Linked DNA regions of Homo sapiens. The protein of the gene in region 1 purifies or fractionates together with the protein of each later gene. This does not show direct contact. Each region holds a gene or a part of one and is shown on either strand. Other genes may lie near its edges.

Region 1 (3,823 bases):
ACAAATGTTCATCTGCCCCCAACTTCTTAATCCTTAGCACAAAACCAATTTAAAGAAGTAATTTATTTTTCTTTTTTGATGTAACACTTTTTAAATGGAAATAACATCTTACCTGGGCCCCAAACTACTTACAAAATGGTTTCCAGGTATTTTGCATATGTTTACATGAATCATCTCACTAAGATCCTGAGAGTGATGTGAATTCTGGCCTCACTGTCTGTGCAGCCCAGGGCTCCATGCACTGGAATTACTTCCCCATCATGGGAGTGTGTGCCAGAGCCCTTCTTTTCTGGCAGCCCTTGTAAGTTTAAAAGAAAAACGGGAGCTGAATGGGTTTGATAAGGACATTGAGATAATGGAGTAAATTAGAATTCGGAGATAAGATGAAAGCTATTATGTAATTATTGAAAGTATAATTAAGTAAACAGTATTGTTTTCTAACTTACTTTAAATGTCACTAAATGTATCCATTTAATAATTTAGCTAATTAGGGTCTTCAGTTATTTTGTGTAACAGATAAATACAGGAAGAGAAAAGAAGGTGCTTGTGGTGATACCCTTTGGTTAGTGATTCCTCTGTAGAAATAGCAAAAGACATATGTGATTGCCAAGAAGGAAATTATCCAGGGCCAGTCAATATCAACTGGACCAATGAGTCACAAGTGACCAGGAGACACCTTATATTGTGTTTAGAGAGAAAGCAATAATTCCATGAGACTTCCTTTGAGTACTGGTATAAAAACCAAGCTTCACTTGTTCCTTTGTTAAGGATTCTGTATACAGTAAGATTAGCTGTTCATACCATTCATTTATACACATAATGGATTGTGAAATGTTAATCCTTAGCTATATGCAGGTGACCAGTATGTCCTGGGTTTTTTAAATCAGTAGTGCATAATCAGAACTGGCTACATCCTTAGCAGGGCTCAGAGCAAAATAAAAATGCAGTGCCCTGTTTTTAAAATTATTAAGGATTTTAGGATGATGACAGAAGAGAATAAAACCCTGGGCATGGGACCCTGTGCGGCTGCACAGATTGCATACCCACGGAGCCAGCCCTGCATTTGATAGCTGTCAGATGTAAAGGCAGACTTCTATTTATATATGCAGCTTTCAGTCAATTGCATGAATGTGTAAATTGTCAAAGAGAAATGTGATGGCCAGGTCCTTACTGTGAGTAAAGGACCAGGAACAGGACCAAAGTTTGAAAGGACTAAAGAAAGCCCCTTCTAACATTACAGCTCTATGTCTCTTGGTTATCTTCAGCCCATTTTCCCTTCAGTTCCTAAAGAAAACCATAGGATAGAATTATATCCTATAATTATAGGCCATATAGGTAACAGGAGGATATGACTTATGTGATATATATTCTTCTTGTAAAAATAATGTCAGGTATTTATCGGGGACTGCAGGGTGGGCCTTCTTCCTCTCCTAGATGAAGAACTGAGGTTCAGACAGCTAATTATGGAAGATAATTAGCTGGGATAATTATGGAAGATAATGCAGCTGGGATCCAAGTTCTTCATCACTCTAGTCCACTGCCTGTCTCATAGGATTCCAGTTGATCCTGCAAGACAAGAGTAGCTTACAAAGGGTTTGCATATACCTTAATCTCATATCTCATTCCCAGTAGCACCCTTGTGAAATTGGCAGTGTTATCCCCAATTTACACACAGGGAAACAGAACTTCAGAGAAGTTATGTCATGTTGCAAGGTCTTAAGATAGCAAATGGCAGAGCTAAAACTAAAGTCTGCTTTTCAAGTCATGAGTCCAGCCATGTTTTCTCTGCTCCCTACTTTGGGGACCCAGCTACTTCCCCTACATATGCCATTCCTTTTCAATCTAACTCTATTGGTTTAATTCTTTTCCACTAGACTTTGTTTAACAGATGTTGCATTTCCCAGAGGAAAAGTGAATCTCCTCTACACTCTAAATAGCTAAAAGTATTATTGATGAAAGGACTTCAATTCCCTATAGAATTTTAGTTCTAGAAGCATATCTGAATAATGTAGGGGTTTTCTTAAGTGCAGTGAGAGGTAATTGAGGAAGTGGAGGAGGAAGCTGCCAAGAGTCAGAGTTCTCTCAAAGATGACTCCAACTTCTACAATTGACCTTGCTAGAAACAAGAAAATGAGACTTAGATATTGGGCCAGGACAGCTCAGGAATTATATCTTCCATTGGGAAAGGCTTCCTGTACCTATGTTACTATGAAATGTTACAGCTTAGTTTCATGCATATGGCTGGTGTGATCCAGTTACTTATTTTAAAAAGAGAGTTGATTTCCTTTGTTTATATGCTGGCAGTGAAAAACAGAATGACAGTTCGACTTAAGAATGAGGGCTTGTTCTCAGTACAGAAACAGAAGTAGCCTAGTTCAAGAAGTGCGGACCACCGCTTTGTACAATGGTCTCCAAACTTTGGTCACTTCATCAGGAAATAGTATGAGCACTTCTCTCCATACATAGTTATTTGTAAAGTATACATGCTTCTGCTATTGTACTCTAAAACGTGCTGTATTATATACCAAAAAAGTCCAAAAAATGAGAAAAAATAAATAGAAATAGGAGTTCTAATATTCTTTTTGCTTCCCCAGTGAATGTCTTGCTCACTTCACTTTAAAAAAACACTGCTTTCTGTGTTTTTGTTTTTGTTTTTGTTTTTGTTTTTGTTTTTCGGGTTTTTTGAGACAGAGTCTTTCTCTGTCGCTGAGGCTGGAGTACAGCAGTGCAATCTCGGCTCGCTGCAATCTCTGCCTACTCTGTTCAAGTGATTTTCCTGCCTCAGCCTCCTGAGTAGCTGGGATTACAAGTGTGCACCACCACGCCCAGCTAATTTTTGTATTTTTAGTAGAGATGGGGTTTCGCCATGTTGGCCAGGCTGGTCTCACTCTCCTGACCTCAAGTGATCCACCTGCCTCAGCCTCTCAAACTGCTGGTATTACAGGAATGAGCCACCACACCCAGCCAGAAAACACTGCTTTCTAAAGAATATGCATCTAGCCAGAACTTTGTGTTTTAACATTTTCGATTAAAAATTGAAATTATATATCTGACATTAACTTAATGATCATCATTTACTTTCATACAGCCCTTATCAATTCCAAAAAGCTATTTTCTTTCATCTAAGTCACAATCACTTGGGAATTTATTAAAATGCAAATTGATGGGCCCCACCAGAGAGCTACATAACAAGAAATTCCTGTGGGAGGAGCCCAGGCAGCCTTTATTTTAACTAGCCTATGTTTTTAACCAGATGATTCTGATGTACACTTAAGTTTTAGAACCCCCATCTATGGCCTGGTGCCATGGCATGCGCCTGTAGTCCTGGCTACTCGGGAGGCTGAGGTGGGAAGATAGCTTAAGCCAGGAGTTTGAGACCAACCTGGGCAACATAGTTAGACCCCACCCAGGTGATTAGGTCAATTGAATCTGACTTTTGTCAACAAATTCTTCTAATATGTTTTTTAAATGCACAAAATGTCAAAGTTGAGATTTAATGATGCTTTTTACAATTTCAGGATTTACTTCAGATGCAATATGAAGGAGTAGCTGTAATGAAAATGTTTGATAAGGTTAAAGTGAATGTAAACCTTCTCATATACCTGCTGAACAAGAAGTTCTATGGAAAGTGAAGTGCCTACAGAAATTTCTTGGATTCTGTATCATCTGGATTAGGAAATGAATTTGTTTAATATTTTTGTTTTTAAACATGATTGAAATCACTGCTTATAAATGTGTGATTTTTTTAAAACGACCAAAACTGTTCTGAAGAATGTACCCAGGTGCCTTTTTGCTAATTTGATACTATAATAGAATGAGACAT
Region 2 (3,823 bases), on another chromosome or scaffold:
GCTACTCAGGAGGCTGATGTGGGAAGGTCACTTGAGCCCCAGAGTTGGAGGCTGCAGTGAGCTATGATCACGCCACTGCACTCCAGCCTGAGTGACAGAGCAAGACCTTGTCTCGAAGAAAAAAAAGAATCCATTAAAATTCAAATTGCCATAGTCTGACCTTTTGGGCTGCATCTGATTATAGTTACAGGGTCTGTCATTTTACCTGGGCAGAACTCCCTGAGTATTAGTTATACAGTTTGTGAAAGAGCTTTGCTGGTCTGTATTTAAGTGTCTTAGTCCATGTGCTCTCTTTCATTGCAGACGAACAGGAGGCATTGAACTCAATCATGAACGATCTGGTGGCCCTCCAGATGAACCGACGTCACCGGATGCCTGGATATGAGACCATGAAGAACAAAGACACAGGTCACTCAAATAGGCAGGTGTGTGTGACCCTGGCAGAGCTAAGTGAGATTTGTTGGGGAGGGGTTTTCAAATGGGAAATATACGAAAAGCCAAGGAGACTACATTACCAGGGTTGAATGCTTTTGACCCCTTCCTTTCACAGTCTGTTAAATGGGAAGTAATACATACCAACCAGGTATGGTTAAATGGTAAGTGATATTGGGAGGCCGAGGCAGGCGGATCACCTGAAGTCAGTAGTTTGAGACCAGCCTGGCCAACATGGTGAAACCCTGTCCCTACTAAAAAACACAAAATTAGCCAGGTGTGGTGGTCCATGCCTGTAGTCCCAGCTACTCAGGAAGCTGAGACAGGAGAATCGCTTGAACCTGGAAGGCAAAGGCTGCAGTGAGCCGAGATAGCACCACTGCACTCCAGCCTGGGCAAGACAGAGTGAAACTCTGTCTCAAAAAAAAAAAAAAAGTTATATATGCCATGCAGTTATGGATCTATGATTTGGAGTCTTAAAGCCTTGTGTAAGCATTTCATCTGTTATGGGGACAGTATTCATATTCGTTTTTCCCCTTTACTGATATTTGGCAAATATTTAATTCAGATTCATGATCCCTAAGTCAGAAGGTTTTTAGCTACCTTACAGTATATAGTCAGGAAAAACTAATTAATTTGGTATTAGCTTATGTAAAATATAATTAAGAAGGTAAATTTATTAATTAAAATGTCACCTAGTATATTCTGAAGGCAATAATGAGTGATTTTGTTATTACTGTTTACAGTTATTTTACCTTATTAACCTTATTGATAGTGCCTGTTTTATTGAGAGTTGTATGCTTCTTTAGGAAAACATTGCCTATTTTCCTTAACATTTAAACTTGTGTGTCATTGACAATCTTCTTCTCACCTGTAGTGCCACTTACCTGTTTCCTGGGTACTTTGTTCTGCAGAGAGGAGTGAATGATGGGGAGCTTTCCTACCTAGTGGGTATCCAGTGCTGTGTCAGCTAGCTATATTGGGCATGTTTGATGAAAATTTGTGTATGACATTCTCCCTTTTGGTTCTGTTTGTTATCAGCTAACCTCCTTTCTTCTCATTTGCACCTTGTTTACCAATTCTTCAGAATTGGTTCCTAGAGATAGTATAAGGCCCTAAAACTTTTCCTGTCTGTGGTCTGCTAGATAGAGCCTTCCAGAGTATTTCCTGCCTTTAGGAATCCTAGGGACCCCAAGGGAAGAGGAGTCCTTTTGTTTCATGTTAAAACAGAAGGATTAGTTTAAAAAGCTGCTTTTGTTGTTGTTACCTTATAGTACTGGAGGTATAAACAGATAAGGGCCCATTCTTACACTATTTTCATATGTTATTCAGTCTGACTGTGTGAGTTCTCCCTTGCTATAACTCATTTGTATTCAAAGCCACTTTTCGAAGGAGCATTTTACCAGAAGTGAGTCCCCTCCCCCTTGCTTGAGCCTAATGACCTCACTTTCCTTCCTGTCTTCCTATGTAGTGTGTGCTTGCTAACATTGCTCCAGTTAGCTGATCTTTCTCCAGACTGGACTATTAGCATGAATATCAGTTAGTGGGTGAAAAGGGGAAGCTTTCTTGAATTGGAAGGCCCAAAAGGACGAGGCTGGGAAAAGGAGGGGCGGAATGGTCACTGATGGTTCCTTGAAGGAGGATTCCTTTTTAGGACTCCTTCTGCTTAGAGCCTAAAAGCCATGATGAGGGAAGTCTTGATCTTTTGCTGTGCCTGCTGCTGCGCTGGTAGAGTGAAGTCAGTGGTTATGAAGGCAGAAGCCTAAAAAGGATTGACTGTTAGGAAGTAATCTTAACAAGAGGTACTAGATCTTTGGATCCATGATTTACTTCAATGTTGTCAAACTTATGTTGCACGAAGGATACAAATTATTAACCTCAGTTTTTTTGTTTTTAAAGAAAAAACACAACAGCAGCAGCTCAGCCCTTCTGAACAGCCCCACAGTAACAACAAGCTCATGTGCAGGGGCCAGTGAGAAAAAGAAATTTTTGGTAAGGATCCAGATTACCTGTTAAAGCCAAAATGTACTTTTAAATCTGCTACTCATGCTGCAACAGCAGAATTCACTTCCCAGACAAGTTGTTTTAGTGGATTTGTAAAAAGCATTGGTTACCCGTGACCTGTGTTCAGTGCTTCTAGTCACCATTTCTCACAACAGTATTATTCATAAACAGCCTCTATCAGTGCTGTCCAATAAACCTTCTGTGATGACAGAAATGTTTTATATCTCTGCTGTCCAATGTGGTTTTGTAGCCACTAGCTACATGTGGCTGTTGAGCAACTAAGGAACTAAATTTTAAATTTTATATCATTTTAATTAATTTAGACAGCCACATGTGGCTAGTGGCTATTGTATTGGACAGCATGACTTTATGCACTATGTAAGGGACTGTTGATTTATTGGGCAAGAAATTATGTATATGCTTGGAGATGTGTAGATATTCATTGGTATGTTCATTCCTTACACACGTCATGAGTTTCTGTACATTGTGATAAGCTAATAATGGGAATCCTACCTAAGATTTCTGTTTTAGGAAGAATGTGAAGATGTGGAACTAGAACAGCTGTTTAGAAATTGAAGCTCAAAGTTTTATGTTAATATGGGCAAAAGGGGAAATAAAATGCTAAGATAGCTTTTCCTCTTAATGAAGTCAAGGTTATAGAATGGCCTGTCCTGGGAAGTGTAGCAGATGTTTTGCTTCTGACCAAGAGGGATATTCTTCAGCAAAATTCTGAAAGCAGAAAAAGACAAAGTCTCAGCAAATGCATTTCTAGGAAAGATAGGGTAAGAGGTAGTGCGGGGAAGATGTTGGGGAGAGGTATTTATAGCCTAGTATAATGAAAGGAGCCTGGTGATATTAATAATCATTTAACATCGGATTTTATAATTCACAGAGTTACACATTTATTATTATTATTGTAGTTTTTGTTAGCCTAGGCCTGAGATAGAATGAAACAGTTTTCTTCATTACCAGTTCTTCTGCCAGAAAGTCCATGCTTAGGAAGAGAGAGGAATGAAAGATCAAAACCTAATTTAAATGGTGAAGAGTTGCCAAATTTGGTTAAGAAATGTCTAATTGGATTACAGATTCAAATTACAGAGTCCCAGTTGAAAGAAGCTAAGCATTTTGGCTAGCTGGAAAGGTTGTTTATTCAAGGGTGGAATGGGGCTGGCAGAGGCAAACAGCCTTTCACTATGAGAATGGCAGTGCTGGCTACAAGGCAGAGTCGAGACTGGCACAGCTTCATGGAGCTCAAGCTTGGCCCAGCAAGGAAAGCCAGAGGAGCTGTGGGTTCATTAACAGGATTGTTTGGGTGCCGAGGCCTGGAAGAACTGAAAAATCTAATTTAATATCTCTGCTTAGCAAGACTTGAGACATCCTTTTCCCT

Evidence for each region.
Region 2: the proteins of IQGAP2 (region 1) and MAP3K3 purify together in Homo sapiens (tandem affinity purification; one large-scale study listed by IntAct). This does not show direct contact.

Annotation. Positions count from the first base shown.
Region 1 is NC_000005.10:76,703,682-76,707,504, forward strand, and holds part of IQGAP2 (ras GTPase-activating-like protein IQGAP2), read left to right. Parts: intron 1-3,518; coding exon 3,519-3,632; 3' UTR 3,633-3,823. UniProt on the Homo sapiens protein: Binds to activated CDC42 and RAC1 but does not seem to stimulate their GTPase activity. Associates with calmodulin.
Region 2 is NC_000017.11:63,632,378-63,636,200, forward strand, and holds part of MAP3K3 (mitogen-activated protein kinase kinase kinase 3), read left to right. Parts: intron 1-303; coding exon 304-425; intron 426-2,331; coding exon of another isoform or gene 2,332-2,424; intron 2,425-3,823. UniProt on the Homo sapiens protein: Component of a protein kinase signal transduction cascade. Mediates activation of the NF-kappa-B, AP1 and DDIT3 transcriptional regulators.